2 separate regions of the Homo sapiens genome follow, and region 1 is linked to region 2. Evidence: fine-mapped expression QTL. A gene starts in region 2. The other region holds a variant in brackets. All regions are shown on one strand. Distances are from middle to middle.

Region 1 (15,074 bases), 26 kb after region 2:
TTCTCCTTTACAACCTTTTATCAGCTCAGCAACAAAGCCAGGAGATTCTGCCAGTGGACTTCACTCCCTTCATTTCCCATAAATTTGCCTTCCCACATTTTCCCACTTCTAGGATCCTGGGACAGCTTCCCCTTTGTCTTGTCACTTCTCTGAGCTGTATTGTTCTTTGTCGAATATACGACATAAGCCAGACTCTTAAAGCCACTGCTTTGAGTTACTTTTCTCCCACGGGATGTGCACTGCATGCATTAATATACTTGCTTGTTTTTCTCTTGTTAATCTGTCTTTTCTTGTGAGTCTGTCCCAACTACAAACGTATGAGGGTTGAGGAAGAGTTACTTTTTTCTCCCATTCATAGTCTATACAGCGGCGGTTGTTACTGTCTTGGCAGGCCTCTTAAGGCAGCACTTCTTCAACTGCAGTGTGCCCATGAATCACCTGAGAAATGTGTTAAAATGCAGATTCTGGTTGAGTAGATCCAGGGTAGGCCCTAATATTCTACATTTCTGAAACCGAGGGCTAATCTTTTTTTTTTTTTTTTTTTTGAGATGGAATTTTGTTCTTGTTGCCCAGGCTGGAGTGCAACGGTGCAATCTCAGCTCACCAAAACCTCCGCCTCCCGTGTTCAAGTGATTCTCCCCCATCAGCCTCCCAAGTAGCTGGGATTACAGGCATGTGCCACCACACCTGGCTAATTTTTATTTTTAGTAGATATGGTGTTTCTCCATGTTGGCCAGGCTGCCTTGAACTCCTGACCTCAGGTGATCTGCCTGCCTTGGCCTCTCAAAGTGTTGGCATTACAGGTGTGAACCACCACGTCCGGCTACTGAGGGCTAATCTTTTAAGTTGCTTGCACCTTGTTGATTTTTGCTGCTTGTTGATTTTTTAAACCCACATAGCTTAAAGTCAGGCTGCTAAATGCTATAACTTAGCCTTCACTAGCTTCCCTATAAATAACACTCTGACATATATGTCACCATAGTAACAATTGCTTAAGTTGTCTTTCAGGAACTTGGGGCGGCCCCTGTCCAGTTCAAACCAGCTGAGACCACCAACCCTCTGAATGCACCTGCATGGATGTCGGAAAAGTGACACTTGCCATCAGAGGGCCAAAACTCCACCCTCAGATCATGTTAACACTGCTATTTTCTGACCATGTGTCCTAAGAAGAGCCGTGAGCCCAGACTGCACTTGCTCAGATCACCAGTTACCTCACTTCTCCCCACCCTCAATCACCTTTCCCCACCTTAGACCATCCTAATTCTTTACTCCATAAATATCCCTAAGCATTATCCTTGAGGAGGTAGATTTGAGAGCTGTTCTCCCATCTCCTGGCTGGGTTGCCCTGTGAGTAAATCTTTTCTCTTTTGCAAAACCCATTGTCACCATGACTGGCTTACTGTGTGCAGGCAGAATGAACCTGGTTTGGTGTCATATCTACGAGCTCCCAGACAATGCCAGTCCCACTGGACTAAGGGTCTCACTTTGAGTAACAAGTTCTTAAAAGTCTCCTGGATCAAGTTCTTCTGCCCTGACCGTCTTTTTCATAATAGTCTAGAGCAAGACTTCACACACAAGAAATGTTGGACTGTCTCATAGGCAGAAGGGTTTGTGGGAAAAGCAGTGAGTCCATTTGAAAGCTACAAAAGTAAAGTGAGCTCTCATCATGTCACCAATAAGTGTTCTGTTTTTAATTTTCAGATAAAAATCATAATAAAGGAAATAATGGAAGAGGAGACTTATGTTACTGGGGACATCTAACATAATTATTTTCCTGATTCAGTGGCATGGTTCAGTCTTCCAGGAGTTCTGCTACAGAGAAGAGAGTAACCCCCATCCATCATGGCCAAAGCACCCAGTCAGGCTCCGCTCTGGATCCAGCCCGACAAATGCAACCCTTGAATAGGGTTTGTGCAAGCAAACTGGATGACGACCGAAGAAACCCTGTCGCTTCTGAGAAGACACCCAATCCAAGAATGTGAGTTCTGGAAATGTCATTAAATGTCAGTTATATACATGCTTACGTGTCCATATTAGCTATGCAATCACCATCAGCAAGTTCTTTTTCTCAACCAAAAAAAGAAGTAAATTTCTCTGCTAATTAAATATTTCCTCAGGCCAGGCACGGTGGCTCACACCTGTAATCTCAGCAGTTTGGGAGGCCGAGGAGGGTGGATCACTTGAGGTCAGGAGTTCAGGATCAGCCTGGCCAACATGTGAAACCCCGTCTCTACTAGAAAGGCAAAAATTAGCTGGGCATGGGGGCATCTGTAATCTCAGCTACTTGGGAGACTGAGAGAGGAGAATCGCTTGAACCCGGGAGGTGGAGGTTGCAGTGAGCCGCGATGGTGCCACTGCACTCCAGCCTGGGTGACAGAGCGAGATTGTCTCAAAAAAAAAAGATAAAATAAATAAATGAATAAATAAATACATCTTCACTAAAACTCAAATAAGTGAATTTTGAGAGAAGAATTTTATTTTTTATTTTTATTTATTTATTTTTTTTGAGACGGAGTTTCGCTCTTGTTACACAGGCTGGAGGGTGATGGCACAATGTTGGCTCACCACAACCTCTGCCTCTCGGGTTCAAGAGATTCTCCTGCCTCAGCCTCCCAAGTAGCTGGGATTACAGGCATGTGCCACCATGCCTGGCTAATTTTATTTTCTTTCTTTCTTTTTTTTTTTTTTGTATTTTTAGTAGAGATGGGGTTTCTCCATATTGGTCAGGCTGGTCTCAAACTCCCAACCTCAGGTGATCTGCCTGCCTTGGCCTCCCAAAGTGTTGGGATTACAGGCGTGAGCCACAGCATCCAGCTGAAATAAGAATTTTAATGGGAAAATACCTTATCTGTATTCAGTGTTGACTCCATGCTAATTTGAGTGTTTGAGATGGCTATTAGGTGCTGTAACATTAAATAATTTACAAATACTTAAATATTTGAACCATAACTACAGTTTTAAAATAAGTTTACTCATCTAAGAGTGAAGATTCTCTTACAATCTGCAAGTCTATAGCTCAACTTTTACATATTCATGTTTTATATTCATTTTCAGGAAAGCATCAGGTTCAATACCTAGGAACTCCTGTAGAGGGTGTTGTGGAATCTTCTTTAAAAGAACAAAACAAGGCAAAACAAAGTTTAATAGGGTAGAGCAGCCAGGTGTGGTGGGTCATGCCTGTAATCTCAGCAATTTGGGAGGCCAAGGCAGGATCTCAGCAATTTGGGAGGCGAAGGCAGGCAGATCACTTGAGCCTAGGAGTTCAAGACCAGCTTGGGCAACATAGCAAGACCCTGCCTATACCAAAAAAAAAAAGTGAACCTAGGAGTATGAGGCTGCAGTAAGCTGTGGTTGTACCAGTGCACTTTGGGAGGCCAAGGTAGGCGGGTCTTCTGAGATCGAGAGTTTGAGACCAGCCTGACCAACATGGAGAAACCCCGTCTCTACTAAAAGTACAAAATTAGCCGGCATGGTGGTGCATGCCTGTAATCCCAGCTACTCGGGAGGCTGAGGCGGGAGAATTGCTTGAACTCAGGAGGCAGAGGTTGTGGTGAGCCAAGATCGCGCCATTGCACTCCAGCCTGGACAACAAGAGCGAAACTCCATCACAAACAAACAAACAATAAACAAAAACCATAGAGTGATTTCTGGCCAACAGAGCAAGAAAGAAGTGAACCAATGAAAACCGGTCCAAGTCTGGGAGTCAATATGGAAAAGCTGCCTAATTAATGTGGAAGCCCCAGGGAAATGATATACCATGAAAACCTAACACTACAAAAACTAGTTGTCAGACACATGTGAGCAGTGAACAGAATCCTAATATGCTGGTTTAACATTCAAAACTGGAGAGTGTTTGTGTATCTTCTAAAGACTGTTTGGGGTTTATTTGTGGAGTTCAGCTGAGTGTCATCAGAACAAAGATTAGTGCAAAAAATCTTTCAGAAATCATGCCCAAACATTTGCATGCACCTTAAATAAGAAATGAAATAGCAAGAAGAGTATGTCACAATAAAGTATAAATAGCAAGTGATATGTCTCATCGTACTGAGACAGTTTTATAAATGAGGCAAAGGCCTTGTCAAAAAATAATGATGATTTTCAAAATTCTGAAACGCAAAGGAGGAAAACTACTTCATTCAGTTAACAGGAAGCACACAAGAATCTCCCCATCAACCAAGATTTTTTTTTTCTATAACCCACGCTTTGTAAGACAATAATAGCAAAAACTATAAACTAGAATTTGTTGAAAGAACAACTTCTAGAATTTGCCCTTTATGTGCTGTTTTACCATTGTCATGTCTGTCTCTGGTATGACTTCCTCATCTATTAGTAGCCTCCTAATAAATTTGAACAAATGAATGAATGAATAAGAGACAACTAAGCATGAGGTATTGCAAGATGGTAACTCATCCAGGGAAAATTAAAACCTGGAGTGGATCAGATGGAAAAACAAAATAAGACACTAGAAAAAAATCACCAGGAGGGTTTCAAACCAAAAGATCCCCTGGTTAACCTTCAGCTAATTATAAGATTTAATTAACTAGAAAAACTCAATCCTTGTTTATTCTATTTAATTGAGATTTTACCATATTTAAAATGATGTTACTCAAGTGTTCTCATTAATATTTAATGAAAGTGTGAGAGAATTGGCTAACCAAATTTACTGTGCTTAGGTAAACTGTAATTAGGAAGGGTTAGCAGAGCATCCCAAGGGACCTATCAATCACAAAATGAAGCGATACAATTACAGATGAATTTCAACAAGGAAACACACAAAACAGTGATCCTCAAAAAAGATGGAATAAAATTACTTGAATGTGGTAGTCGGTTCTGAGAAATGCAATCAATCACATGTCATTTCAGACAACTCAGAAGGAATAACCCTACCCAACAGACTTGAACTCTTTGTGTGTGTGTGTGTGTGTGTGTCTGTGTGTGTGATAGAATTTCACTCTTGTCGCCCAGGCTGGAGTGCAGTGCGATCTCGGCTCACTGCAACCTCTGCCTCCCAGGTTCAAGCAATTCTTCTGCCTCACCCTCCCTAGTAGCTGAGATTATAGGTGCCCACCACCACACCCGGCTAATTTTGTATTTTTAGTAGAGAAGGGGTTTCACCATGTTGGCCAGGCTGGTCTCGAACTCCTGACCTCAGGTGATCTTCCCACCTGGGCCTCCCAAAGTGCTGGGATTACAGGCATGAGCCACTGCACCTGGCCCAGACTTGAACTCTTGATTGCATGAAAGTGTATTAATCTTCTATCTGCTTATTCCCAATTTCCCAGCTGATAAAATGCCCCACTGTTATTTCACTTAAATTTGGAATAACCTGCATCTAGTTAAGTTGGAGCTACTTTGTCTTGTTGCAGATTTTCTTTTGCTTTGCTGTCTTCATTCTAACTTGGCAGAGCCCAGGTGCTTTGTCTCTATTTGCCTGCAAGACCTCTTTTCCAAGACATGTCAGGTTTCTCTCTAAAGTACCTTCCACCTGGAGGATATCTGTTCTTGTTCTTTAATTCCTGGCCCTATTTCCTATTCATCTGAAAAACTAGGCTTTGTGAGCAGGATCATGCATGGCAATGAGTTCTAATGAGTTTTTAATGTTTCACACTTCATGATGAACATATATTTGCATTTCAGAAAATGCTTTTAAGGAATGTTTTTTTTTTTCTGCCCTCACTCCTAACTCAGTTGCCTTTAAGCAAAACCAAAGAGAGCCATGGCCAGCCTGTTCAAATGGCTGCAATCATTTAAGCCCCTCTCGCTGCACCCTGGCCCCTCTTGCCTCCCTAGCCTGCCCATGCTTGCCCCTGTCTCAACTTCTACCCCCACTCCAGCTGAAGAGATTTGCCATTCTCAGCTTTCACCTTTGGGGATCCCTCTTGACCATGGTTAGCAATTGCTGTGACCATCCTCACATCACAGATTTTTGGGCTTCTGTTTCTTAGGACAATGCCTGCTCTCCCTGCTAGCCTATCCCTCATCCCAGGCCCTCCAACCTCCAGCCACTGCAACTCTAGAGCCACATCCTATCCCATTGACTAACCCAACTGCCAAGCCAAGCCCAATCCCCAGACCTGGAGCTCAGAGAAATTATTAATCCAATCAAAGGCACTAAAGTTGGGATTCTGACTCTGAAGCAGGTACCAAATTTTGGACAGAGAGGGGCTCCTGAAACCATACTATTCCTGCATTAAGTGTCTGGCACTAGGCAGGGGATATGATGTGATCTAACAAGGCCATGCACTGGAATTAACCTGCGTGAGCTCCACTTGGCTGCCCTCTAAAGGTCAATGCATTGTTTGAGCCTAGGGGAGCCAGTCACTGCTACATCAATGGCTGCATCACGGTATCCTTTTTAGGACTAAACCTGCATTTTCCTAATATTCAGGTCTGTAGAAACTTTGACTGCAAGAATTTTACAGGAATGGGTAAATATCTGTAAGTACTTAAAAGTATATATGGTAATATACAATATGATAGAAGAAATAAGACCTAATGTTAGATAGATCAGCAGGGTAATTATAGTTTACAACCATCTTTTGTACAATTCAAAATAGCTACAAGAGAAAAAGGTGAGTGTTTTTAGCATAAAGAAAAGACAAATACTTAATGGATATCCCAAGTATACTGATTTGATATTTACAAATTATACAAATGTATTAAATTGTCATGTGTACTCCAAAACTATGTACATTATTATGCATCAATTAACAAAAGATAAAAGTATGTATGAATCAGTAAGTACTTCTAAGGACCTGTAAATCCATATAAGTGCACATTAGTATAAGAGAACTAAGGAGAATTTGAGATCAGTGTTTACACAGTGCTAGCATTTTGTTATCTAAAACACCTCTTTTTCAACTCTATCAAAGATTGAATGCATTTTTTAATTCAAGGAATATAATATTCAGGATGATTATTTTTATTACAGCTGTGGGCTTTTTCCTTGGGCATTGAACGCTTCCATTTAGTTCAACTACTTATTATCTTTTCTTCTCCTCTTCTTTTTTTTTTTTGCTTAACTTTCTATTTCTTTCCCAGTAATAACATATATTTTCTCAACTTCTTAAATCTCTTTATTAGATACAGTCGAATGTAATTTGGAATTTACGAGTCTTATCACATTCTCATTCTGCTTGAGCAATTCAAGATATAAGAAAAACAGACTGTCTACATTTCTTCAGAGTTCCTCCAA[C/T]TATTGGCTTAAAATTCCTGAAATTAAAATTATAGTTCTTTGACATCGCTTCTGTCTAATCATTGCTGATACCTGGAAAACACCAAATGGCTTACTTACACAGTGTCCCACTCTGAAATTTCTCACATAAAGGATTGTCTTACACAGAAATACTGACCATTTTGACAAGGGAATGGCCCTAGAATTGGGCCAGAGCTAAAAATAAGCAGAATAAACAATTTTGATATTCTTCTTCAATGGTCATAAATCTAGTTAGCATGTTATCATTTACATATTATGATTTTGTTCATGATAGTTGTAGTAGAATGGCCTAAAGAAATCAAGATCTGTTTTATCTTCTACATTACTTTAGTTACTGTAAGACTGATAACTCACATTGTCGTTTACCAAGTATTTCCATTTGTTCCTTGGAATAATCCTGTGAAGTGGGTATTTTTTATCACTAGTTTCATATAATGAATATATTACTGTTAATGTCAATACATTCTATTTATCCAGCTCACTTATTCTAGTATTCTCTCTGCAGTGATTCTTTAATCTCATTGAGAAGCCCCCATGCCCAATACACGCCTCCTATCTTCATACACGCCTCCTATCTTCATTTCCCTCCTTCCCCAACTCACACCCTTGAAAACATTCTTATCTCTCTTGTTTCTTTTTCTGTTGTCCTTGACTGGCAAATTTGGAGGCATGGATGTACCCAACTCTTTGCCATTTGGGGCTACCCCCAACTAGCCAAATACTGCTAGAGAAACTCTCCTGAATGATTTCACTCTAAGTTCTATGAACTTCAAATGGGCATTTAAGGATACCTGGCAGTCCTACTATGTTTTCCTAATAAATTTCATTTTCCTCTTTCAAAATTGTTATTTATTCTCCCGTCTCCTCCAACCTCCCATATCCCCACCTCCACACTCACTCTCTGCTGCTGATGACCTCACTTCATACTTTATTGAAAAAAATAGAAGCCTGCAGAGGAGCAACACTTTCATACTGCTCCCACTGTATCTAAAAATCTCTAAGTTTCTGTGCCTGTCTTAGTCAGCTTGGGCTGCCATAACAAAATACCATAAAATGAGTGGCTTAAACAACAGAAATTTTTCATCTCATATTTTGAAGACTCAAAATGTTGGCATCGTTGGTACCTGGTGAGGGCTCTCTTCCTGGCTTGCAGACAGCTGCCTGCTGGCTGGGTCCTCACATTGTCTTTTCTTGGTGCATGCATGAGGGAGAGAGTGCTAGTGTCTCTTCCTCTTCTTATAAAGACACCAGCCCTATCAAATTAAGGGGTAGCTCTATGACCTCATTTAAATAGAATTATCTCCCTAAAGACCTTATCTTCTAATATAGTCACATTTGAGACTGTGGCTTCAACATGAATTTTGGGGAGACAGAATTCAGTCCTTCAGAGTGCCTGTGTTTTTCATCTTACCATATGTTACAACAGAAAAAAATGTCCCTGCTCTCATCAAAAATCAGTAACCCCCAGTATGTTCTGGCTCCTGCCCGTCTCACTTTCTTAACATTACTGACCCCCTCATCTCTTCCTTCTCTTACATAACTAGGGTTATCCTTCTCACAAGCACACAAACACGCTCCTCCCTTGACTCCATAATCCCTCTCCATCTCCCAACTCATTTTTCTACCCCCTGTAAGCACCACTTCTCTAACAAATTATCTAAAATTACTGCTTCCCCTTCCTCAACAATCTATTCCCTCATCAGAAGACTTAAAACTGGCTAATGTAGCTTCTGGGACTCAGAAAATGAAAGCCCAAAATATGACACTTCAGACTTCAAACTGAGAGCACATGGAGAGCAGCAAATGCAGAGAAGGACTTTCCCCAAAGGTCCCTCCCTACCTAAACACAGGATTCTCCTAAGATACTCAATCATTGTCAATCGCTTCCCCAGGGTATCTCAATGACTGGGAGAAGACTGAAGCCTATCCCAGGAAAAGAAGACTAGAATTGATGACACACCAGGAGTCCAGATGGGCTTTGTCTCAGACTACCATCTGTTCTTCAGGCCCATTCATCTTCCCTAAAACTCATTTACTCCTCCTCTAAATTGTCTGCATCCCACCCTTCCCCCTCCCTGTGAAGAAGGGTATATAAGCTTCTAAATCCCATTGGGTCATTGGACACTCACCTTCCTGGAATGCACGCATACACATAATATATGTGTTAGCCTTTTCTCTCGTTAAGTGATCTGTTAGTTTATTTCTCAGACTCAAATATCAGACATGCAGAGTGGAAAGAAAGGGCTCTCTCACCCAACATGGCTCATCTCAAGCTCATCAAAAGCCCCCATGTTCCAAATTCAATGGACGCCTCACTTGTCTTTTTTTTTTTTTTTTTTTTTTTTGAGACAGAATCCTGCTCTGTCACCCAGGCTGGAGTGCAGTGGCATGATATCGGCTCACTGCAACCTCCACCTCCCAGGTTTATGCGATTCTCCTGCCTCAGCCTCCCGAGTAACTGGGATTACAGGTGCGCCACCGTGCTCAGCTAATTTTTTTATTTTTAGTAGAGACAGGGTTTCACCATGTTGCCCAGGCTGGTCTTGAACTCCTGACCTCAAGTGATCCACCGGCCTCAGCCTCCCAAAGGGCTGGGATTACAGAGGTGAGCCACTGTACTGGGCCGCACTTATCTTACTTGATCTTTCAAGAACACCTGACCCAGTCAACTGCTCCTCTTCCCTGAAAACCACATCACACTCTCCTGGTTTTCTTTCTGCATCCCTGGCTGCTCCCTCTGCCTCTCCTTTGCTGGCTTCTGCTTCTCTTTCAAGCCTCTAAATGTGGGAATACCCTAGAACTTGCTCCTAGATCCCCTTTTCTTCTCCACCTATCTCCAGAGCTAAGTGAGCTCATTCTACTCTCTGGCTTTGAGTCCTATCTCTCTGGCGATGACACCCAGATTGATATGTGCAGTTCTGACCTCTCCCTTGAGCTCCAGACTCATTTATATGGTCGAAATGCCCATCTGACATTTCCAATTGGACGTCTAATAGTCTTGTCAAATGTAGCATATCCAAAACATAACCTTTGACTTCCCTCTTTTCCAGTCTTCCCCATCTCTATGGATGGTAATGAACTGCTCAAGCCAAACATTTATCATTCGGATTCCTGTCCTTCTCTTCTCTCCTATACCCGGGCTTTTGACGATTCAGCCGTAAATCCATCTACTTCTCTTTATCGGTACTTCTATTGCCTCATTCAAGGCACATCAGCTCTTGTCTGGATGGAAGCCATGGCCCCATAAGTAGTCTTTCTGCTTCAATTGCCTGACTGCCACACATTCTCTATGCAGCTATCAGAGTACTCTTTTAAAAACTTAAATCATACTTGTCATACATGACATATTGTCATGCCCTTGCTCAGAACCCTTCTGAGGCTTCACTTATTATTAGAATAAAACTCATCCTCACCAAGGCTTGCATCCTACAACATAACCTGACTTAGTAGGTCTATTTCCTCCTTTGCTCTCTGTATTGGTCCATTTACATTGCTGTAAATAAATGCCTGAGACTGGGTAGTTCATCAGGAAAAGAGGTTTATTTGGCTCACAGTTCTGCAGGCTGTACACAAAGCATCGTGCCAGCATCTGCTTCTGGTGAGGGATTCAGGAAGCTTATAATCATGGCGGGATGTAAAGGAGAGCCAGCACATCACATGGATAGAGAGAGAGAGAGAGGAGACAGTGCCAGGCTTTTTGAAACAACCAGATCTTGTGTGAACTCAGAGAATAAGAACTCACTCATTACTGCCGAGACATTCATGAGGGATCTGCCCCCATGACCCAAACACCTCTCACTAGGCCCACTTCTAACACTGAAGCTCACATTTCAACATGAGATTTGGAGGGGACAACCATCCAAACCCTATCACCCTCCATGATCCATTCTTTCTGCTTCTCAAATATGCCATGTTTAGGGCTGCTGTTCCTCTGCCTTGAGCGTTCCTGTTAGTGCTTCAGGTCTTAACTCGAATGTCAACCCCTCAGAGTGACTTTTGCTACTCCCTATGGAATGCTCACCTCCCACCCCCGCCATCAGCATTTATTTCGACTTCTTTCCTACCACTTAGCACAGTGAGCTCCAGGAGGGCAGGCTTTTGTCTGGCATGCTCCCTGCACATTCTCCAGCACCAAGCACAGACCTGGCACACAATGAATGTTCACTGAAAGAATGAAGTTGATCTCAGACTCTCCACCCAGCTCCAGGCTGCCAAAATAAGCCCCTAATTGCCTTCCCTGCTTCTCCTTTTGTTCCTGCCCCATCTGTCTCCTAGGGAGAATTGTCTCAGCTAGACCAGTCCTGGGCTCTTCACACATCAGAGTTAGAGAGTTGACAGGGAATTAATAGAAGATAGAACCTGAAAGGCTTAGGAGGGGTAAGACTTGGAGAAATCTGTTGTCAGTCAAAAATAATAAAGTACAGAGGTGTATGTGAGGAGGTAGGGGAGGGAGTACAGGAAGGGGAAAGAAATCTATATAGTCCAGGTGTAAGTGAGAAAGTTCTTTCAGCATTTGTCAAACTTGAGTTTGGGAGAGGGTGTGGGAAATAAATAACTGAGAAGAGTAAATGGGATTGCAGCATAGATGAGGATTCTGAATTAGGGCCACTCTGTCACCCAGGCTGGAGTACAGTAGTGCGATCAAAGCTCACTGCAGCCTGGAGCTCCTGGTCTCAAGCAATCCTCCCACCTCAGCCTTCCAAGTAGCTGGGACTACAGGCATGTGCCACCAAACTCAGCTAATTTTTTTTTGCATTTTTTTGCAGATATGGGGTCTTGCTTTGTTCCGGCTGGTCTCAAGCTCCTGAGCTCAAGTGATTCTCCCAAAGTGCTGGGATTACAGGCATGTGCCACCATGTGCAGCCTGGAGCCCTTTTTATGTACTTTAAGAAGAAGGAAAATAAGGACACAAATTTTTTTTCTGGCATGTTGAGTTGTGCTTCCTGAAATACCAGCCTGGGCTGAATGCCATGGGCCTGTGATTTCAACAAGGTTACATACATATGAGAAAACTGAAGCTCTGAGTGTTCATAGGACATGACCACTGTCATTCAGTTGATAGATGACAAAAGGAGGATTCGAACCCATGGCTTTTACCTACAGGGCCCTTGTTGTTACAAGCATTCTCCTTGCTTCCCTCCAAAGCAAGAAATGAGGTTAGCCAGACATATGGCCTCCAATTGTTATCATTTTCCTTTCAAATTGTTTACAGTAATTTAAGTCAAGCTAGCTGGGCGCGATGGCTCATGCCTGTAATCCCAGCACTTTGGGAGGCCGAGGCAGGTGAATCACTTGAGGTCAGGAGTTCGAGACCAGCATGGCCAACATGGCGAAACCCCGTCTCTACTAAAAATACAAAAATTAGCCAAGCGTGGTGGCAGGTGCTTGTAATTCCAGCTACTGGGGAGGCTGAGGCAGGAGAATCGCTTGAACCTGGGAGGCAGAGGTTGCAGTGAGCGGAGATCGTGCCACTGCCGTCCAGCCTGGGCAATAAGAGCAAGGCTCCATCTCAAAAAAAAAAAAAAAAAAAAAAGAAAAATTTAGTCATGCTCACCAATCTATGGTTTCCAAAATAAATCTTTATCTTCCCTTTACATAGCAAAATAACATTTTTTCCCTTTGTCATTTTCTATCATCTCTCAACTTCTCTGTGATTCATTAATGATCACCAGTAGTAAGTATCGAATTACACATATAAAGAACCTTTAGTACCAGGCTGTAATTTTTCTCCATGTGGAGAATGAAATTTGCTTAAAATGACTGGAAGAGCTGGGGGCAGTGGCTCACACCTGTAATCCCAGCACTTTGGGAGGCCAAGGCAGGAAGATTGCTTGAGCTCAGGAGTTCGAGACCAGCCTGGGCAACATGGTGAGACTTTGTCTGTACAAAAAATTTTTAAATTAGCTGGGCATGGCAGTGTGTGCCTGTGGTCCCAGCTACTTGGAAGGCTGAGGTGGGAGGATGGCTTGAGGGGGAGGATGAGTCTGCAGTGAATCATGTTTGTGCCACTGCACTCCAGCCTGGGCAACAGGGCAAGACTCTGTCTCAAAACAAGCAAACAAAAACAAAAAAACAAAAAAAATAACGACTCCACACAGTCGCGTTTCCATTGCCTCCTTTATGGCTAGATGTTTCCAATATGAAGATCATTGTCTTTGAAAAGGAAGTCATAGACAGAAGAAAAAAGGAGCTGTTCTGATTTCCCCACCCTCAGGGAACAATATGCCATCTGCTCCAAACAGTGAGCATCATATCCCTTTCTTGTTTTTGTTTAAAACATGGCTATCAAAAAACATTGGAGGTTCTTGTATCCTTTAGCTTTTTTCCTACAATCTTCTTACAACTTCACAGCCATTGATTTGCACACATTTTTTTAACACACACTTTATCTTTCCACCTACCCTTTCTGAATCTGATATCATGCAGTCATGCTAATTTGAAAGATGCTTTCCTATTTTTTCTTTTGCATTTATATCATCAGAATTTCCTTTAAAAAATATTACAACCTGGTGGAGACTTAAATAGACACACGTTTTCCAAATGGATAAGGAGGAGGTTTTAAAATGATAACCATGATATAGTTAACTTTTAAAAAAAATTATTACCTCAAAGTCTAAAGACTCTAAAGTGCTTTATAAAAGAGATAGTGGGCTGGGCACTGTGGCTTATGCCTGTAATCCCAGCACTTTCGGAGGCCGAGACGGGCGGATCACGAGGTCAGGAGATCGAGACCATCCTGGCTACACGGGGAAACCCCGTCTCTACTAAAAATACAAAAAATTAGCTGGGTGTGGTGGCGGGCGCCTGTAGTCCCAGCTACTCGGGAGGCTGAGGCAGGAGAATGGCGTGAACCCGAGAAGCGGAGCTTGCAGTGAGCTGAGATCACGCCACTGCACTCCAGCCTGGGCGACAGAGCGAGACTCCGTCAAAAAAATAAATAAATAAAAATAAATAAAATAAAATAAAAGCTAGTGCACATTTTTGTTATGGTGAAAGTCATGTGAATATTTGCATTACATGTGATCATACCCAAAAACTCTATAAGGGTCATCTAGAGACTAGATACTCATGCATATCTCCTGGGGCTGATTTAGGCACCATGAGATAGTTGATAACACCTGTACAGAATGCTGTGGCATGCCACCCAGGCCCTCTACTTTCATCCTGCCAGCTACTGGGAGTTTTGTCTGCTGATGGCCCACACTGGATCCTTCCCACACAGGTGTCCTCTGTGAAAGGAACTGTCTCTTCCAAGGTGACACCTTGTATTGGTGTCACACTACTATAAAGAACTGCCTGAGACTGGGTAATTTATAAAGGAAAGAGGTTTAATTGACTCACAGTTCCACCTGAGTGGGGAGGCCTCAGGAAACTTACAGTCGTGGCGGAAGGCAAAGGGAAAGCTGGCACATCTTCTAACAGGGCAGCAGGAGAGAGCAAAGGGGGAAGTGCCCACACTTTTAAACCATCAGATCTCATGAGAACTCAGTCATGAGAACAGAACACGAGAACAGCAAGGGTGAAATCGCGAGAACAGCAAGGGGGAAATCCAGCCCCATGATCCAATCACATCCCACCAGGCTCCTCCCCTGATACATGGGGATGACAATTTGACAAGAGATTTGGGTGGAGACACAGAGCCAAAACATATCACAGCTCCTGAGAGGCAGCCACGTCATGACTGACTGATGCCTAGCCCCTTACCTGGGGTAGAACACAACTGGGAAAGGCCATGCCAGCCTCAAGCCCCCTGTGGAACTGGCTGAGTCCTCTGTTGCAACTGCATTAGGATCTATCTGTCTTCTCCTGCTGCTTAGTCCTGTTTCCCTCATGGGCATTGTTCCTGAGAGCACTTCCT
Region 2 (15,074 bases):
TACTTGCTTCCAACAGGAAGGCAAGTTTTCCTGCTTCCATGTCGATGGAAGACAGGTACCTCCTTTATGGACCTTGAGCTCACTTCCAACAGGGAAGATAAGTTTTGTTTTGTTTGTTTTTTTCCTGCTTCTAGCATGGTAGAGAGCAGTCTACAGCTTGAGACCCATGACTAAGTAAGAAACTGGTTTGGGATTCCATCTTGCCAATTATTTTAAACAACAAAAGTTAGTATTTAACAACCAGCTGGTGTTAATGTCTGCTTACACTTACAGCACTCAGAAATCATATAATTTGTGTGATCATTGTTAGTTTTGCTTAATGGTTTTGTTTTTTCTTTCTGTCTTGGTCAAATCTGAAGGGGAACCCTAAATTATGGGGAACAGGGTCTCTGAAGTGGGAGGAAAATGGCCATCAAAAGGAAAAAAAAGATTTTTAATTTTAACTACAAAAGGGGCTTTATTTACATAACAAGGCCACCTTTTTGCCAGCCAGACCAAACTGAAAGAGCAATGGCTGTACTTCTGAAATAGCAGCATTTTGTCCTAGCTGAAATATGGTAATAAGATTTAAAAAACAAATTTGTGTAAGGAGCTCCATGATTAAAAGTCAGCTTAATGAAAAGGCTAACAGCCAAGATGTGTGTGTGTATGTGTTCATGTTTGTGTGTATGTGTTCATGTTTGTGTGTATGTGTACATGTTTGTGTGAATGTATGTGTACGTTTGTGTGTTTGTATGTGTACGTTTGTGTGTTTGTGTGTATGTGTTTGTATGTGTACACGTTTGTGTGTATGCATATGTGTATATGTGTGTTTGTGCGTGTGTGTGTGTGTTTGTGTGTATGTGTACGTGTTTGTATTTGAAAGGCCTTCATGTTTTGAGGGGTTTTTTTTGTTTTTCTCTCCTAAGATTTTGTCTTTTTTTGAGCAAAAGTTTTTTTTTTTCTTTATCTTCTCAGTTGAACGAGTTCTGTCGTCACCTGATTGTTTGACTAACATAGTTATTGAAACAGAGTTTACTCGGGTTTTTAAGGAAGAGTGTAGTTTAATTTGACTCAAATAAAAATGAAAGTGTCTCCCTCTAGTACCACCAGACTTATTCTCTCTATACCTTATGATGTAAATTTTGCTATTTGATTTTCATCTGAGTTGTTTCCTTTAATGTGCAAACTTAAGGCTATTTAGCTGACAACTACCTAGGGTTGTAAAACACATTATCAAGAATCTGAAAGTCTATAATAGGAAAAAGGGGGTGGGGTTATAAATCTATAAAATGTACCTCCATCGGCATGCCTAATACGTCTTTATATGTTTTTAGGTGTTGTGTACACAATGTTTCACTAGTAAAAATACACAAAAGAGCTCTAATTAATTGGCTTTAAAAAAAAGTGCTTAAATCAAATACCAAAAAAGACTAGTCACATGCTTTTAAAGGTTATATAACTTAAGTAAAATCTTTAATAAATAAGCTGGCTTTAAAATTATTGGTAAAGTAATATTATAAGTGTCTTAAGAATTGCCAGCACACATTTTTGTTTGCATTTATTAATCAAGCAGTTTCATACTTATCCTTGCCAAATACTATGAGGTGTCAAAATTTGGCATGGGTTACAAAACTGTAAACCCAGCCCCAAACAGAATGATCTTTGCTTGTGTAATTTTTAATAAGTGAGACATTGATATGCGTTTAATGAAAATAGCTGTATCTCAAATTTAGTAAGATTATCATAACTTCTAATCCTGTGGCTTTAGGCAGTCTAGTCCACAGACAATAAAGAGGTTTGTTTTGGGAAAGAACTGTTATCGTCTTTGTTTCAAAGCTAAACTATAAACTAAGTTTTTCCCAAAATTAGCTTGGCCTGTGTTCAGGAATGAACAAGGACAGCTTGAAGGTTAACAGCAAGATGGAGTCAAGTCAAAATTTTTTCACGGTCTCAGTTATAATTTTGCAATGGTGGTTTCATAACTTTAAATCATGACTATCACAGTTTTCATAAATAATCTAGGTAAACTATTAAAATAAATAATTACGTAAATGTAATGGGATAAATACTTGTAGACAAACTGGTCATAATTTAGAATATAAAGTTGTATTAAATTAAATAATAGATATTTCATATTTGGGAATTTTCCAATAAAAGAAGTTTCAGTGATAATTTTTTTTTTAATTAAGTTTATTACATCCATGTATCTTCTTGCTCTTATCACCCAGGCTGGAATGCATTGGTACAATTTTGGCTCACTGCAACTTCCTCCTCCCAGGTTCAAGCAGTTCTCCTGCCTCGGCCTCCAGAGTAGCTGGGACTACAGGTCTCCGCCACCATTTCTGGCTAATTTTTGTATTTTTAGTGGAGACAGGGTTTCACCATGTTGGCCAGGCTGGTTTTAAACTCCTGACCTCAGGTGATCTGCCGGCCTCAGCCTCCCAAAGTGCTGGGATTACAGGCGTGAGCCACCGCACCTGGCCCCTGTATATGCTTTTAAAGTCCTTGTTAACATTGAGTTACAGGGCTTTAACTCCTGGGTTTGAAAAGGACATCAAGTCCTGCTAAATCTTAAACACTGATAGCAATTAAAGCCTTATCTTCAGGCCCCGTACAAGATGCCAATCAAAATAAACTGCATGCCTGAGATACAGGGCAAGAAATTAAAGCTATTCAACACCTCAAGGCCCAGGGACTACTGTGAAAGAGGTGGGCCCATAAGATCGTAAGGGCCGATTTTGAAAGTTAAAATAAGTTTAGTTTCTCTATAAATTAACCATTAGTGTCAAAGGCACACTGATGCAAAACTAGTATACGGATCCCTGTGTCAGATTAACAAGATTTTCTAGAAGCATTAACCAACTCCTTAATAAAGGTTATAAAGGTTATAAAAGGCTTGTGGAAGTTATATTTTATAATGAAGATTAAATTTTATAGACTGTTTACAAAATTTTGAACAAATGTAATTGGCTTCATGCTGTTTTTATTAGGGCTTCTTGTTTAGAAAATTAAGTCTCTTCTCACAAAGAATGAAGGTTTTCACTTTTTTTTTTTAATACTTGAATTATCACTTTGGTTAAATAAATGACTTCACAATGACCTGTAATCCTATTTTGTAATATCAAGTGTTTTAAACCTTTGATATATGACAAACTTTCTAAAATCAAATTATCAATTATGTCTTTTTCTAATCTAATTAATCCTTTAAGACATTAGGTTCCCTAAAGTCCAAAAAATGACATAATTTGGCTTATTTGGTATAAAAATTATACAGGAAGCATTGTCAAATATAAAGTGGTATTTAGTTTTCTTAGGGCTGTATTTGTATAAATATGTTATTGATATGTGTTCCAAAATTATGGGAAACTCCTGTAATTCTGATATACCTTAGTGTACCTTATCAGTAATAATCATAATTGTTATAATCATTGTGTGCCACAGAGATAAATTTTCTTGTCAATTGTGTTTTTTGACTATGGCTGTCTTAAAACTTCTTTTTCATCCATGGACAATTGTTGTCTTGTTTTGTTCCTCTTTAGAGGGTGGTTTTATAATCAGCTATAAAACTTCAACAGGTGCTTTTAAATGCACGTTTCTAATAACTTTGTAGATTGTGATATCAGAATGCAGGAAAAACTTTCAGAACTCATGGAGAGCTAAAATATTCATGAGTATCAAGCAAAACACAGGAATTAACTGCATGGACTAAACCAATCCTTTTGACTTTTTGCTTAAAATGTTTACTGATCCTTTGTTTTGTTTTTCAGACTCTTAAAACATTTCTTTTGAGCTACTGACAGCTTGTAACAATTTAGTATACTCCCATGAACAAAATTTGGAGCATATTTGTTTCTAACTGATTTCTCTGGAATTTGGAAACTATTTGTGTATATTCTTAACTTATGGCAATACAGTTATTTGCGTAAGTGCAATAGGAATCTGTTTTCATTTGTGACAGGACACAATTGGAGAAACTGGTTATTTTACCAAGGCTTTGACTGGAATGATGTGCTTTCCTTTAAAGAATCAAACTTGACTTACGGAGCCAATAAAGCCCTTGGAAAAACTGGCCTCAAATTTTGTGTACACAGTCCCTGTACAGGGTTTCTGACCTGTGGTAAAAACAGAATGTCACTTTCTGACAGGCACAGTACCCCCAGGATAAACTTGGAACCTCGAGAGGAAATTCACGAAACTCGTAAGTATTTGATGGCACAAATCCATGACTGGGCTTGGCTTTTAAAAAGTCTTATCTGAGATTGCTTCTATGGAACAGAGTTCCATCAAAGCCAATTTAAAAAACTATGTAAAAAATAATTATTCATGCTGCACTATATACAAATAATTAGGCCAAGTATAATAAGCAAACCAGTGCTACCATGATTTGTCTTTAATAACATGGGAAACTGGAGAGAGAAAAAAATTGTGTTTCAAAACGATAGTACACGTGTTAAATTCTAGTCTTGCCTAATGTTTTCTTTTCCATTTTTATTATTTTCTACAGTTTGGACCAAATTCTAATTTTTCTTGGCTGCAAGTCTTCAAAATGATGTTTTCATTTTTTTTTCCAGTTTTCCTAATTTGGAGTCACTAAAATCTAAGCTGTGCTTTCTTCAAACCATGAGAACTGAAGCCAGACAATTTAAACTTAAGAAGAAAATAACAGCAACCAATTTACATACATAAGCTACTTTCATACCTACTTACTAATGTATGGACTTCCGAGTAATTGGCCTATATCAATTTTTCCAGGATTGTTCTTTTGTTTGTAGCTTTTTCCCCCTTCCTCCCCCTAATTTTCTTTTCACAGGACAGGAGACTTCACAACCTGCTAAAATGAACTTTCGGGACCTACCCATCTAGGAGTAAACCATCCTAGCAATGAAAGATCAGATGAAATCTGAAACCAGAGAGTCTGTTTTGTTTTTTGTTTGTTTGTTTGTTTTTTTGTAAAATCATTTCTCCAAAAGATTTTAAAAAAGAAAAAGGGTGAAATGTGAAAGGAAAATATCTTGGGCCTCCAAAATCACTAAGGGAAACTCCAGCTGGAAACTGCTCAGGGCAAACCTGCCTCCCATTCTATTCCAAGTTATCCCTCCCCTCACTAAGATAGATGCGTATCTGATGGCCTTCCTTCGAAAAGCTCATCAGAAACTCAAAAGAATGCAACCATTTGTGTCTCACCTATTTGTGACCTGGAAGTTCCCCCCACACTTCGAGTCTTCCTGCCTTTGCTTCAAGTTGTCACCCCCTTTCCAGACTAAACCAATTACTTCTTACATATAATGATTGATGTTGTCACGGTGTCTGTGTGAAGAGACCACCAAACAGGCTTTGTGTGAGCAATAAAGCTTTTTAATCGCCTGGGTGCAGGCGGAGTGAGTCGGAAAAAGGAGTCAGCAAAGGGAGATAGGGGTGGGGGCAGTTTTATAGGATTTAGGTAGGTAGTGGAAAATGACAGTTAAAGGGGGTTATTCTCTTGCAGGTGGGGGCAGGGGTCACAAGGTGCTTGGTGGGGAGAGCTGGAGACATATTGTCCAGGAGAAGGAATGTCACAAGGTAATGTCATCAGTAAAGGTAGGAACTGGCTATTTTCACTTCTTTTTGTGGTTCTTCAGTTGCCTCAGGCCATCTGGATGTATAAGTGCAGGCTTGGGCTCAGAAGCCTGACAGAGGTCTCATACCTCCCTAAAATGTATAAAACCAGGCTGTGCCCCAGCTACTTAGGGGAAATGTTGTCAGGACTTCCTGAGGCTGTGTCACGGGCGCATTCTCAACCTTGGCAAAATAAACTTTCTAAATTAACTGAGACCTGTCTCAGATTTTCTGGGTTCAAGTGCCTGTAAACACAACACTTTGGGAGGCCAAGGCAGGAGGATCACTTGCACCCAGGGTTTTGAGACCAACCTGGGCAACAAAGAAAGACCCCATCTCTACAAAAAATAGAAATTAGCCAGCCATGGTGGCACGCACCTGTCTTCCTGGCTATTCAGGAAGCTGAGGCAGGAGGATCGCTTGAATACAGCAGGTCAAGGCTGCAGTGAGCTGTGTTCGTGCCACTGCACTCCAGTCTCGGCGACGGAGTGAGACTGTCACACACACACACACACACACACACATACACACAGGCCGGGCGCGGTGGCTCGCACCTGTAATCCCAGCACTTTGGGAGGCTGAGTCGGGCAGATCACAAGGTCAGGAGTTCGATCACAAGGTCAGGAGCTCGATCACAAGGTCAGGAGCTCGATCACAAGGTCAGGAGCCTGGCCAATATGGTGAAACCCTGCCTCTACTAATAACACAAAAATTAGCCGGGCGTGGTGGCACGCGCCTGTAGTCCCAGCTACTGGGGAGACTGAGGCAGGAGAATCACTTGAACCCGGGAGGTGGAGGTTGCAGTGAGTCGACATCGCACCACTGCACTCCAGCCTGGGTGACGGTGAGACTGTCTCCAAGAAAAAAGAAAGAAAAGCATGTAGTTAACCTGCAACGACATCAAACACAGAGTTTCTTCTCCTTCCTCCTGCAAGGCTCTTGTATTGGTTCGAACCCTGAGAGAACGCCAACAAACAACACAAGGCAGTGTGGAGCAACAGGCAGTTTTAATGAATGCCTGAAGGCAGACCTTCAGGCCATTTCAGGCCGAGGCCTAAAATGGCATCAGCCCCAAATGAGGACGGGCAGGGGTTTTACAGTCTCCCGTAAACAGGAAGTGTTTCAGTCTGTGTATCTACTGCTACGTGATACCCGGTAGGCCTCTCTCTGGGTCTTCAGAACAGCTCTCTCCCCGCTTCTGCTATCTTGCTGACGCACGCTGATGACGTAAGCCGCCTTGCGCCTTGGGACTGGGCCTGAGAAGGGAGGAGTTATTCAGGCCTCCGCCAGCTTCTAGGCCCTGGGGATGGTCTTTCACCTCCCTCTTTCTGATCTCTTTTTCATGCTCCTCCTTGCTCCAAAGAAAAGCCGGATGGCAAAAGAGCCCAGAACCTATTGGTGAGTTCCACGTACGTCAGCCTCCCTGGGAAAAGTCAGGCAGAGATGAAACTGGAGGGTGAAAAGCTATGAGGGTGAAAGTGGATTGAGTGGGCCCAGTGGAAGACGCACAGCACCGTGGATTCCCCTTGCAAGCTTAAGGCCCGCTAGTTGGAATTTAAGGAAAAGAAAACAATAATTTTTTTTTTTTTTTGAGACGGAGTTTCGCTCTCGTCACCCGGGCTGGAGTGCAGTGGCGTGATCTTGGCTCACCACAACCTCTGCCTCCCGGGTTCAAGAGATTCTCCAGCCTCAGTCTCCCGAGTAGCTGGGATTACAGGCATGCGCCACCACACCCAGCTCATTTTGTGTTTTTAGTCGGGGCGGTGGGGCGGGGGGGGGGGGGTTCTCCATGTTGGTCTGGCTGGTCTCGAACTCCCCACCTCGGGTGATCTGCCCGCCTCAGCCTCCCAAAGTGCTAGGATTACAGGTGTGAGCCACCGCGCCGGGCCCAGAAAACTAGGATTTTCATAGGGCTATCCTTCTGTGAGAAACGGAGCTAACATACAGGACTGGACTGCTGTCACATCGATTAACCCAAATCAGAGATCTTAGCCAGTATCAAGCTTTCCTAATAATTTCAAAGATCTGCAGAGAAATGAGGGGAAATGGGGCTAGAGGTGAAGTGAAAAAGTTAAGAGATTTCTGCTGAACTCTAGGAGAGAGATTGCAACTCCTTTTACTTGTCAGGATAGAATAGACTATGATATGATAACAACGCCAAGCTCTCAATTGCTTTACAAAACAAAGGTTTGTTTCTTGCCCATGAAATGCCCACTGTATATCTGGAGGGCCGTCTAGGACAGCTGTGCTGTGTGTGGTTTAAGGCTTTCAATGGTTCATTTTCTGTGTCGACCTGACTGGGCTCAGGCATGCCCAGATAGCTGGTAAAACATAATTTCTGGTTATGTCAACAGACTCAGACAAAGCAGAGACAGGCTTGGGACATCAAGGGTGGACACCCCAGTCCTGTCTTCCCACACTGCACATGGCCCAGGATCGTAGGTGAGGTTTCTAGGTGAGGTCAGTGGGCTTCCTCACACAGCAGGAAACTTTAAATTGTTAAACGGTTTCTCTTTTAGACCCAGGGAGTTCCACAGCCTTTGAGCCATTCTCCAGGCAGTCCTGCCTCCTGGATCCTGGATTCCATTAACTTTAAGCAGGACCTCAGCCAGAGATCAGCCTGCTAGGGACACTCAATGGATGTGTCTCTTCCTCTAAGCAAATATCGTTAGTCTATTTACCCAGAGGCTCAGTGGAGAAACAGTTAAACCGGTTTACCTACCTTGGTTTCTTTATCCCCAGATCAAACTCCAACACCCCCAGGGAAGGGAAGGAATGGATTAGAGGCAGCTGTATAAACACTATTTCTAACATTAAAAGAAGCAGTGTGTGTGTGAGAGAGAGAGAAAGAGAATTATTATTAGGAAGAGAAAGTGAAAAACATGAAGGCAGGAAGACCGCTCACTGGGTCTTCCTTGTATAGGATTGGCATGTGGAAATCAGCAATACCTCTTACTGAAACCATCTTTGAAAATTATAACTGAGGAAATTATGACATGAAAGAAATCAGACCTAACTGACTACATCTTGCTTCTAATCTTTAAGCTGTCCTTGTTTATTCCTGGGTGTAGGCCGAGCTAACTTTGAGAAGGAATTCAGTTCGTGGTTTGAGTCTGAAACAAAATTGATAATAGCGCTTTCCTGAAAGGACCCCCTTCTGCCAGGGGACCAGTCTGCCTTTGCAGGACTAACAAATTAGCTACAAGATTAGAAATTACAGTTTAGGGGTCATGCAGACTCTGGCTCCAAGAGTCTGAACCTCCCCATGTTGCTCCTGGGGATACCATCACTATTGTAAAACCTAAGATCAGTACTTGAGATATTTTTCAGACCCTAGACTGGATGGATCAGCTGACACCCCCCAGACTCATAATCTGGCTCAGCCAGTTCTGCCATCCCACCCAGGAACAGAAGATGGCAAGAAAAACTCATTTCAACTCCCTGATTCGCTCCAGCCTGACCATCAGCACTCCCCACTGCCCAAGCGCCTACCCTCCAAATTATCTCTAAAAACTCTGATCCCCGATCCAACGCTCAGGGAGACTGATTTGAGTAATAAAACTCCGGTCTCCCACACAGCCAGCTCTGCGTGAATTACTCTTTCTCCATTGCAATTCACCTGTCTTGATAAATCGGTTCTGTCTAGGCAGTGGGCAAGGTGAAACCACTGGGCGTTTACATTATCCTGAACCATCTTCAAATGTTGTCAGGCAAGCATAAAGCAAGATGAAACTCGGGTTATTTCCTTTCAGGGAGGTTACAGGCATAACCTCGTGTCCCTGCCCAACACACACACATCCTTTGTCCAGCACCATTGGACTGGGCACCTTCTAGGAACAATCAGAGTCTCAGGCCACCAGTGCCTCTTCCATGTAGATGAGGCATGGAGCACTTGGATTTCCTTTTTTTGAAGGAGATGATGTAGCAAACCCTCTAAAATATAGGATTGTAAGCAGCGCAGGGGAAGCTGAGGGAGTGTCACAGCTGAGACTGGGGGGTAAATCGTTCACCTGGCTGAAATTGTAAGCACAATTTTGTACAAGTGTGTATTTTTCTAGGATAGCATTCAGAATACATATCATGTTCTCAAAAGGATTGGGGGCCTATAAAAGTTTAGCCAGTATAACTACATGGTGTTTTGAGGAGTTTTTTGGTTGATTTTAGAGACAGGATTTCGGTCTGTCACCCAGGCTGGACGAAGTGGTGCAGTCATAGCTCACTGCAGCCTTGAACTCCTGGGCTCAAGCAATTCTCCTTCCTCAACCTCCTGAGTAGCTGAAACTACAGACCTGAGCCACCACATTCAGCTAATTTTAAAAATTAGTTTTAGAGTCAGGGTCTTGCTCTGTCCCCTGGGCTGGAGTGCAAGTGGTGCCATCATAGCTCACTGCAACCTTGAATTCCTGGGTTCAAACGATCCTCCTGGCTCCGCCTCTTGAGTAGCTGGGATTACAGGCACATGCCACCCAATTTTAATTATTTTTTGTAGAGATGAGGGTTTTGCTATGTTGCTAAGCCTGGTCTGAAACTCCTGGCCTCAAGCAATCCTCTAGCCTCTGCCTCCCCAAGCACTGGGATTACAGCCATGAGCCACCGCACCTGGCCCCTACATGGTATTTTTAACAAATGCGGATCCAGGGACAAATAAGTTGAGTCCCACTGCCAGGGTCTGACCCTGGTACACATTGTTTGGCCCCAGGTCCATCATGCTCATTAACAGGAGCTTCAGAGCCCAATGGTAAGCCTGAGAGTGAACAGTCTCATATTCCAAATGACTTCAGAGACACTGTCAGACATTCTGAAAATAAAACCCTTGTTGTAAAAGGAAATTAAATGTGAAGAGTAGAACTTACCCTTTCGTTTTGTTAGAGAAAGACTCAATGCCATATTGCAGATTTTTGCATTTCTCCGTCAGTTGGAGCGACTTCTCATTCAGATATGTGCTGTTTCATGAAAGAGATTTTTAAAAAGATTGATTTAAAATGAGAGCTTATAAGATATTGTTAACAAAAATCAGATTTAATTGATAAAGTGTGTCCAAATGAAGTCTCATCTTTACTCCATTATTGGATTTCTCCATGGAAAAGGAAATTAATATTTTCACCTCTGATGGGTCTAAATGAAAAAAAAAACAAAAAACTTACGCTGTAAAGTCAAACATAAGAGAACTCTATTTTGAAGACCTTTTTTTTTTTTTTGAGATGGAGTTTCACTCTTGTTGCCCAGGCTGGCGTGCAATGGCACAATCTCAGCTCACTGCAACCTCCACCTCCCTGGTTCAAGCGATTCTCCTGCCTCAGCCTCCCGAGTAGCTAGGATTATAGGCGCCTGCCATCACGCCCAGCTAATTTTGTATTTTTAGTAGAGACGGGGTTTCTCCATGTTGGTCCGGCTGGTCTGGAACTCTCGACCTTAGATGATCCATCCGCATCAGCCTCCCAAAGTGCTGGGATTACAGGCGTGAGCCATCGTGCCTGGCCTTTGAGGACTTTATACTGGCAGGTTTTCATATTCTGAGGTTAGTATTTACAATGAACAAGTTATTTAATAGTTTTAATCACTGTGTGTTTATTTTATTTTTATTTATTTATTTATTTATTTTTTAGATGGAGTGTTGCTCTGTCGCCCAGGCTGGAGTGCAGTGGTGCATCTCGACTCACTGCAAGCTCCGCCTCCCGGGTTCACGCCATTCTCCTGCCTCAGCCTCCCGAGTGGTGGGACTACAGGCGCCTGCCACCATGCCCGGCTAATTTTTTGTATTTTTTTAGTAGAGACGGGGTTTCAGCATGTTAGCCAGGATGGTCTCGATCTCCTGACCTCGTGATCCGCCTGCCTGGGCCTCCCAAAGTGCTGGGATTACAGGCGTGAGCCACCGCTCCCAGTCGCGTTTATTTTTAAAGGATGTTTTCTTCGGTAGAAAATATGCAGACATAGGAGATCATTAACTCTCTCCATAATGAACACAAATCTGGCCTTTGATTATTCTGATAGCTGCAATATACTGGCCTGGTGCTATTTGTTTTATAAACTTTGAAAATTGGAGGTGGAACAAAAGAAAAAAAATCTGAAGTCAGGTTAAGGACATGGGTTACAAAGTTAGCCTGCCTAATGAGCCTCAGGGACATAGGCATGTTATTTAACCCACTCCAGGCATAGACTTCCATATTTCTAAATCAAGGATAATTGTGCTTACCTCATAGTGTTATTGCCATGATATATATATGCTAAGGAAACAATGTAAACCACTTGTAACATGCGTCACATATATTAAGTGCTCAAAAAAAAATCAACTATCTCTTTCCTTAGACTTAAAAAATATATATGCAACTCTAACTTGCTGTTAATGCATTTATTTCATCATCCTGAAGGTATTCGTTGATAGCCTAATATGGGTTGGGCCCACACACAGGTTATTTAGGACAGAGAGGAAGAGAAAATAGACATGGTCTTATTCCCTAATGGAGCTTGCAGTCTGAATAAGGAGAAAGGTATCAATCAACAAATAACCAAACAAATGAATATAGAATTATGAACCGTGATTGGTTATGGTTGAACCAGAGTAGGTGGCTCAGAAGAGTAGGTCTCTACTCACACTGAGGGGTCAGAGGAGGCCTCCAAGTGAGTGTCATTTAGATGGAGACACCCAAGGATGATCCAAACAAAGTGGGTAGTGCGTTCAAGGCAGAGGAAAAAGTGTGTGCAGGCCAGGCCCAGTGGCTCACACCTCTAGTCCCAGCACTTTGGGGAGCTGAGGCAGGTAAATCACTTGAGCCCAGGAGTCCAAGGCCTCAGTGACCATGATCGGGCCACTGCACTCCAGCCTGGGTGACAGAGTAAGACTCTGTCTCAAAAAAATAAATGTGCAATGGTTCCAAAATGGGGAGCAGCCTGGATTATCTGAGGAAATAAAAAGATAATAGGATTCAAGGTTGAAGAGCCATGGGGTGATTGCAGAGAAATGAGGAGAAATGGGGCAAGAGAGGAAGTGAAAAAGTTAGGAGGTTTCTGCAGGACTCTAGGAGAGAGCTGATGGCAACTCCTTTTGCTTGTCAGGATAGAATAGACTATGATGTGATAACAACGTCAAGCTCTCAGTTGCTTTACAAAACAAAGGTTTGTTTCTTGCCGATGAAATGCCCACTGTATGTCTGGAGGCCCGTCTAGGGCAGCTGTGCTCCATGTGGTTTAGGGCTTGTGATGGTTCATTTTCTGTGTCAACTTGATTGGGCAAAGGGGTGCCCAGATAACTGGTAAAACATGATTTCTGGGTGTGATGTGAAGGTATTTCTGGAACAGATGAGTATTTGAATCAACAGACTGAGTAAAGGCTGCCCTCACCAGTGTGGGTGGGCAGCATCCAATCTGCTGAGCACTTGGATAGAACAAAAAAGTGGAGGAAGGGTGAGTTCACTCTCTCTTCTTGAGCTGGGACGTCGTTTTCTCCTGCCCTTGGACATCGGTGCTCCTGGTTCTAGGACCTTCATATTCAGACTGGGACTTACACTGTTGGCCCCATGGTTTCCATCAAAGTCTCCTCAGCCTTTGGGCTTAGACTGAGCTACGCCACTGGCTTTCCTGGGGCTCCAGCTTGGAGAAGGCAGGTCATGGGACTTCTCAGCCTCCCCTAATTATGGGAGCTAATCCCTCGTAATAAATCTCTTGCTATCTCTCTATTGTTTCTGTTTTTCTAGAGAACTCTGACTAATACAGGGATCCAAATTGCTTCAGTCTTGTGGCACCTTCATTTCAATAAGCTGCTTCTATAATTGATGTGGCAGGAGAAGAACATGCTGGAAGGTCTTGCCCTGTATCCAAATGTTTGAACCAGAATTACAATGCATCATTAGCCAGAGCTGGTCACATGCCCCACCTGATTGCAACGTGGGAGTCAGAAATGAGCCACCCTCCTGTGTCCCCAGAGAGGAGATCTGACACAGGTGTAACTGGAGACTTCAGCACACCTGTGTCCATCGGCAGGCAGAGAAGTGGACAGATTTGAGATCCATTCTAGAGGCAAGACTGACAGGACTTCCTAGGAGATTGGATGTGGGAAGTGAGGGATAGGAAGGCATAAAGGTAAAGAAATAAACAAGACAGATTCATAAGTAATTCTCCAATATTTCTCAGAAATCCTTTCTAAAAACTGCCTGCAGAGTACACATGGGCTCACAAAAGTCCCTCTTAATCCTGATAGAATTTATCTCCCCCGCCACTTCCTTCCCAATTCCCTCTAATTCATTCTCCACGCATCACCTTCTGTGCTTTCTGAATGTATTATACTGTCCAAGGATTTGTTTATTTCCCATTTGCCTTGTATTTTATGCAGGCAGGACTGTTAATGAAGTGAATTACCAAGCCAGCAATGCTTTGAATTACGATGGCGTTGCAGTATTGAATTGTGAAACTGTGACCAGTAGGCACCAATAGGATTGTGTCTCCTATGCCTCTTCTTAAATCAGAGAGGGTATCTTTTTAAATAAAAACTCAGAATAGGTTTAGTTGCGCAAACTAAAATCACAGAAGATACGTGGAAACAAATGAGAGGATCTGGGATAGAAGTGAAGGTGACGGAATGAAGTCTTGGGGACCAAACAGGGTCTTCAGAGTCAGCAAGGCCAGTCTCTGAATCTGGGCTCCACTCTCTGACTTTAGCTCTTGAGCTTTGGGATTGCCTTTAAGAAAAAAAAAAAAAAAATCCTTACCCAATAAAGGAATTTTAGGAATTTAATGGGATGTATATAAAAACACCTGACAAGCAGAAGTCAGTAAATAGATGTGTTCTTACTCTCTCAAAGTCATTATTGCTTTATTTCCTCAAATCAGTCATTGTTATTGCCATAGAGGTAGGAAGCATCTCACACTGGTAAGAAGTCACCCAGTAATGAAAGGTACAGACAGAGAAGCCCTTTTAGTTATCTTTGCTTCTGTACCTTCCCTGTCCCCTCCTTTTCATTTCAAGAGTCTTCAGAGTTTTCTTCCTTTTTTCATCTAATGTCATTCAAACTTGCTCCAGAAAGAGACCTTCTCAATTCTGGGATAAGAGAGGACACTAGCTGTGAGCAGATCCCATCTAAGAGGTTGGGGCACACCACAAGTGAAGACGTTGGGTTGAGTCCTTTTTTAAAAAATGCTGATTTGGGAACATCTCTCAGACAAGTCATAGGGGATTGAGAGAAATTGATCCAGGTGAAAGTAGGAATTGCAAAGACTCTAAACCAGGAACAACATCGTGGCACAAGAGATAGCTGCAAGACAAGCGTGGGCTGATTTGTAAGCCCAGGAAGGATTACTGGGTGATGTGGTTTGGCTGTGTCCCCACCCATATCTCATCTTGAATTATAGCTTTCACAATTCCCACGTGTTGTGGGAAGGACCCTGTCGGAGATAATTGAATCACGGGGGGCAGTTTCCCCCATACTGTTCTCATGGTAGTGAATAAGTCTGATGGTTTTATAAGGGGAAACCCCATTTGCTTGATTCTCATTCTCTCTCTTGTC

Which allele goes with the higher level. Alleles are on the strand shown, and positions count from the first base shown. SD is a standard deviation of normalised expression in the study named.
For the expression in testis of the gene that starts at base 6,836 in region 2, T is the low allele of the variant in region 1 and C is the other (moderate effect, 0.54 SD a copy in GTEx).

Evidence for each region. PIP is the estimated chance that this variant, and not a neighbour inherited with it, causes the effect.
Region 1: its variant is fine-mapped to the expression of ST8SIA6-AS1 in testis (GTEx, PIP 0.96).

Annotation. Positions count from the first base shown.
Region 1 is chr10:17,406,267-17,421,340 of GRCh38, forward strand. All of the region lies in intron 2 of ST8SIA6 (ST8 alpha-N-acetyl-neuraminide alpha-2,8-sialyltransferase 6), which reads right to left. It overlaps ST8SIA6-AS1 (ST8SIA6 antisense RNA 1), which reads left to right. Exons shown (of 3, transcript NR_034129.1): 3 at 1,702-2,020. Among named protein-coding and RNA genes, the nearest start is that of ST8SIA6-AS1, 27 kb to the left of the region's middle. The variant C/T (reference allele first, on the strand shown) is at 7,196.
Region 2 is chr10:17,380,101-17,395,174 of GRCh38, forward strand. ST8SIA6-AS1 (ST8SIA6 antisense RNA 1) reads left to right here and starts at 6,836. Exons shown (of 3, transcript NR_034129.1): 1 at 6,836-6,975. It overlaps ST8SIA6 (ST8 alpha-N-acetyl-neuraminide alpha-2,8-sialyltransferase 6), which reads right to left. Exons shown (of 8, transcript NM_001004470.3): 3 at 10,431-10,520.